Linked DNA regions of Homo sapiens: region 1 is linked to region 2. Evidence: fine-mapped expression QTL. Tissue or cell type: whole blood. Region 2 holds a variant in brackets; the other region holds the start of a gene. All regions are shown on one strand. Distances are between the middles of the regions. Region 1 holds the start of CYRIA (CYFIP related Rac1 interactor A). Region 2 overlaps CYRIA (CYFIP related Rac1 interactor A).

Region 1 (2,911 bases), 89 kb before region 2:
CACTTTGGGAGGCCAAAGTGGGTGGATCACGAGGTCAAGAGTTCAAGACTAGCCTGACCAAGATGGTGAAACCCCGTCTCTACTAAAAATACAAAAATTAGCCGGATGTGGTGGCAGGCGCCTGTAGTCCCAGCTACTCTGGAGGCTGAGGCAGGAGAATTGCTTGAACCCCGGGGGATGGAGGTTGCAGTGAGCCGAGATCACACCACTCCACTCCAGCCTGAGCTACAGAGTGAGACTCTGTCTCAAAAAACAAAAACAAAAAAAACACCTTTGCAGGAATTGACAACAGAGGCTGGTCTAGGGCATGGGGAAAACTCAAAAAGAGAACGGGAAAGTGTTTCTTCTGGTCCTAAGGACCCCTTCCAAGTGGGAAAATATTTCACTCTAACTAGACAGTGCCTTCCTGCCCTCTGTGAATTTTTGCCAAAAAACAGACCAAGAGCCTCTGTGGGCAGTTCAGGAGAGCCTTTCAGAGTGCAAAGGAAGCTTGGGCAACAAGTCCTCCCAGGGGAAACACCCTGGATCTCAGAAAGGAGAGGGGCCTGAACACCTTCTCCTGATGCTTCCCGCCTCCTCTGATCCCAGCCCACACAGGGCCCCAACCCATGCAGCTTCGGGCACGTACCTTGGCACACTATGGGGATTTAACACATGTTTCATGATGTTCTGGCTGATGGACTGGGAAAGGAAGCACCCGAAGCCGGGGTCCCCAGGAGCTCTCCCTCCCCTCAACAGGAGCTCTGACTCACAACCTGTTTGGCACTGCTGAGTCCTCTCCGGTTTCCTGAATCTCCCTCTCTCTAATGCAAAAAGCCTCCATGGCAGATGTTTTAGAACAATGATCACGTCAATGACGCTGTAACCCACTACTTTCTTTTTGCATCATAGAATTTTTTAAGTGTTTTTGCAGACTTACTCTTTAAGGTTAATTACATGTTTTGGATTGAGCCTTTGGGAAGACTTTACAGTGGTCCTATCGGATAACTGCGGGCCCCAAGGCTGGAGATCTGTTAATAGGGTGGGCAGAAAGGGACTGGGAGCGAGACTGGGTTCAGAATCTCAAGTAATTTGGAGTGTGCCTAGGGATTGGGATGATTTGGCTGGGCATTAATTTGAAGGTGAATATGCGTCTAGAGATTGCGGGGATTTCTTTTTCTTGGAGGGCAACCGTGGGTGTGGAGGAATTTGGTGTGCAGAAACAGAAAGGTCTGGTTCGGGCTTCCTCTGGGAAGGCAAGGCCAAGTGGCCAAGGCTGAGAAGGGGCAGGGGCGACCGTGCTGGGGCGGGTCCGCACCAGCTCCTGGGAGCAGAGAGCAGAGCCGGGCAAAGAGATGGGGTTGTCCAGGCTAGGGTGAGGACGCGGCCGGTGACAGCGCGGGTGGGGATCCCCCGGGGCCGGGGCGGGGCGGCTGCCGCGAGCCGGGCTGGGGGCGGGGCGGGGCGGGGAGGGACGGGGAGGGGCGGGGCGGGGCTCCGAGGCCGTCTCGCAGGCTGCGGCGGCCGCGGGAGAGGCGTACTCGGCGGCGGCGGAGCGGGCGGCAGAGCAGGGCGGCGGCGACTCGGTGAGCGCGGCGCGGCTGGGGGCGCGGCAGGGGCGCGGGCGGGGGTCTGCGGGCGCGGGGCTCGGCCTGCACGGGGCACCGCGGGGCACCGCGAGGCGGGGCGGGCGCCTCCCTGCCATCCTTCTCCTCCCGGACGCCCCTGCAGCCTTTGGGAGGGAGGGAGAGCGGAGGACACCGTCCGGGAGCCCTTCTCTAGCGATCGCCGGACAGAGGTCCGGCTTTGTGCCCCGTTGCCCTCTTTCTGAGAGGGCTGCCTCCTGATTGTGTTCCTTTCCCAGACCACCCTCCCTCGTCCCTCACTCACTTACCCCCCACCCCAGGTATCATAAGCTCCATTCTTGCAGGGGACCCCTAACACTCCCCTTCCCACCACCCGAGGCCCCGGGGTCCTGGGTACTCTCTACAGCCCCAAAGGGAGGGATGGCCCCCTCCCCAGCCCCTGCACACCTGGACCCTTCTGTTGCCACCTGCCACAGACGTTCTTAGCCAGCCAGAAAGCTGCTGTGCCTAGGACCCAGCACACCTTGCCGTCACCCTCTCTCCTCCCCCAGAACCCAGAACCCCAGTTTGGCAAAAGGCACTTTTCCAATACTGAGCTTTGGGAACAATTTGACCCACTTCCCAAAATGCTGGTCCCAGGCCAGCCATGCTTTTTGGTGGAGACACCTGTCTTGTCTGCCAGGAGACATTCTCTGTCAAAATGGGCCAGCCCGTCCCTGGGTCCTCCTCCAAGCTGCTCCTACTCGCTAGCCAGTGTCCCCAGAGACCAGGGCCAAGATCTTTGTCATTTAAGGCCTCCAAAGCTATTTCCCCACGCATCCCCAGAATTCCCCCAGCCACTGTTTTGGGGGTGCCAGGTCCAGAACTGATGGAGCAATCTTTCTGTGTCCAGGGCCTGATGTCCTCTCCCACACCCTTGTTTACCCGCCTGCTCCCCAGGGAACCCAAGACAGGGTCATGGGGCTGGAGTTTAGGGCCCTGATCTCCCCTGAAGCTCTGTGACCCTCCTTTTCTCCCTGTTAGAAACTTTCCTCTCTGTCACCAGTCACTATCTCCTCTGGATGGGACCTGGGCCATCTGCACAGTGTCGAGTCCCCAGGGCACAGAATGCTGATCTGGGACCCTGGAAGGCTGGGACTTGTGCTGGGGCAGCAGGAGGAGAGTGGCTGCTAGCCAGGTCTGGGCTTGGGTACCAGAGTTCTTTGGGTGGATCATTGTCGGCTTTCACTGATCTCTGGTTGGGGTTCGAGGGCTTGCTTTGCAGTGGAGACAGGAGGCAGAGCAGGGGCTGTTTTTCCTGCGTGCTTCTGACTGTCTTGTGTTGCTATGGTGACAGTTTTGCCTGT
Region 2 (2,911 bases):
CATTAGTAGAAACCATCTAATGTGGAATTTTTCATTTTTAGCATTTCCCTTTTCAATGGCAAAAACAGCAATTACTTTTGCACCAACCTAATAAATAGTCTCAAAGGATTTTCTGAAATTTTCCATTTTTACCATACATTATTCAACATTATAGATTCTTTAACATATTTTTATAGTTATTTTAGGATCCTCGTCTGTACATTTCAACCTCTGGACTATCTCTAGACTCTATTATTAATCTTTACTTTTCTGGTGATATTTTCTTGCTTTGTGTTTGTTAATTTTTTTCCTTTGCTTTTTTTGAACAAATGCCAGGCAGCAGAACAGTGATGACTGATGTGAATAATACGTGCACTCAGAAAATCACATGCCTTTTCTTCTGTCAGTCCACTAGTGGGGTTGAGTCCATCCAATCTGGATCTGGGCTACACTGTTGCTTGTTATACGTGGTTCACTGTAAATTTCAGATTTGAGGGAAGGATCAAAGCAGGCCCTTTACCAGAGCTGGGGATCTGAAGAGTTTGTCTCAGTTTTCCTGTCACATCTTCAGGCTTCAGAAGGCCCTCCAGAACACCTGATTCTCAGGATGGCGTTTCTCAACCTCCTTGGCCTCACCAGGCAGACAGTTGTTCTTTACTTACTGGAGAGTGGCTGGTGGCTTTCTCTTCATTTTTCTGCTCTGTCTACCACAGCAGGCCTGGCATGGTGGGCCCTAGAGGGCACCTTCCCAATGCTCCTCCCCTCCCGCAGTCATAGATGGCCACACTTCACCCTTAGATAAGACTGAGAGTGTAGGAGCATTTCTCTTGTGTATCTTCCCCTGACCCAGAGGGTTTCTGTCTTAAAATCTTTTTTCCTTTCTTGTTCTCAACTTCTTTTGTTAGCACTTGGTGAAGGTTCATGGAAGAGACTTTGCAGGCTGACATAGACTGTCCTTCTGCCTGGAGCTCCCAGGGCCTCTCAGCTTTCATGACACTTCACACTCTTCTTTTTACAGTGTGTGAAGATGTCAGCTATTTTCTTGTTACCTGCATTTATGGCAGCTTTCTCCTTTTACCATTTCTCTGTCAAACTTGAAATCACCTGTGGTGTCATATCTCCTAGGAAAGTCTTGTCACCTTATGGATTATAATTCATTAAAGACTTTTGCAACCTCAACTTTCTTATAGTCAAAAATAACAAGGATTTTGTAGAGTATCTAACTTGTTTTCTTGTTAGGGTGAGCGCAATATTCTTTGTGAATTTTACTTCTTTTTAAAAAATATGAAAATGTGTTACATATTTATATCTAAATGTGTTACAGATATATATCTAAATTAACATTATTTTGTATCATCTAATATATAGTATGTATAGATATTTCTCTGATTTTCTCAAATGGCATTTAATAGGTTTTTTTACCTTAATAAGAATTGAAATGAATTCACAAAATATATTGGATTATGTTTCTTTTCTTTTTTATTATGGTAAGAAGACTTACCATGAGATCTACCCTCTGATCAGATTTTAAGTGTATAATACAGTATTTTTAACTGTAGGCAAGTTGTTGTAGCATAGATCTCTAGAACTTATTTATCTTGCATAATGGAAACTTTATACCCATTGATTAGCAACTACTCATTTTCCCTTCCCCATGCCCAGGAAACCACCATTCCACTCTCTGTTTC[T/C]ATGACTTTGACTCCTTGAAGTACCTCATGTAAGTGGAATCATGCAGTTTGTGTTTTGCTGTTACTTGTTTATTTTGCTTAGCATAATATCCTCAAGGTTCATTCACGTTGTTGCATATGGCAGGATTTCCTTCTTTTTTTAAGACTGAATAATATTCCATTGTATGTATAGTCTACATTTCCTTTATCTGTTTATTTTAAATGGAAACAACTCAATACTTTTGGTTCAATTTTTCACATTATCATAAAAGGGGTATTCTACGTGCTAAGCTTCTGCTAGTCGTGGTGTGAATAGCTGCAAGTTTACACTCTACTGGAGGAGGCAGACATAATGACCAACATCAATAATGCAATATTGGTAAATGCTGTAGCAGGGACACGACCTGTGCTCCAGGATTCATAGGAGAGAATAACTAATTTGATCTGAGAAAAGATAGAAGAGACAGTTGCAGGAGGACAATCCTGGGAAGATTTCCAAGACAGGGTGAAATAATAGCTTCGACGATGCCATATTTTACATCTTCCTTTCTGAGAAACTTTCTTAGCTTCCACTTACGTTGTTCCTGAAAAAAGTCTCTATATTCAATGCCATTTAGCTCTCACTGCATGATGACTTTTATTATACTGTTTTACTAAATTGTTACTGATAGTTCGTAACTTTCACTTTAGGATGTCAGTCTTATTTTATTAATTACTTCATCCTCCGCATCACCTGTCACTGTGGTAGGCATATAACAAGTACCCAATAAATGCTTTCTGAATCTAATGATCCTGTCCTCACCCTCCTAAGGTCCTTGAGGACAGGAACTATATCGTTGAATCCATATCTCCCAAAAGTGTCTGGCATCATTGGCACTTAATAGGCTGTATTAGTCTACTTTCATGCTGCTTATAAAGACATACCCGAGATTGGGCAATTTACAAAAGAAAAAAGTTTAATGGACTTACAGTTCCATTTGGCTAGGGAGGCCTCACAATTATGACAGAGGGCAAGGAGGAGCAAGTCATGTCTCTTACCTGGATGGCAGCAGGCAAAGAGAGAGAGCTTGTGCAGGGGAACTGCTCTTTATTTATTTATTTATTTATTTATTTATTTTATTTATTTATTTTTATTTTTTTGAGATGGAGTCTCGCTCTGTGGCCCAGGTGGGAGTGCAGTGGCGCAATCTCGGCTCACTGCAAGCTCCGCCTCCTGGGTTCACGCCATTCTCCTGCGTCAGCCTCCCGAGTAGCTGGGACTACAG

The links.
Region 1: it holds the start of CYRIA, and the variant in region 2 is fine-mapped to the expression of CYRIA in whole blood (INTERVAL, PIP above 0.99).

The regions. Positions count from the first base shown.
Region 1 is chr2:16,664,434-16,667,344 of GRCh38, reverse strand. It overlaps CYRIA (CYFIP related Rac1 interactor A), which reads left to right and starts at 1,511. Exons shown (of 12, transcript NM_030797.4): 1 at 1,511-1,565. RefSeq lists silencers at 1,305-1,474, 1,545-1,594.
Region 2 is chr2:16,575,731-16,578,641 of GRCh38, reverse strand. All of the region lies in intron 3 of CYRIA (CYFIP related Rac1 interactor A), which reads left to right. Among named protein-coding and RNA genes, the nearest start is that of CYRIA, 89 kb to the left of the region's middle. The variant T/C (reference allele first, on the strand shown) is at 1,668.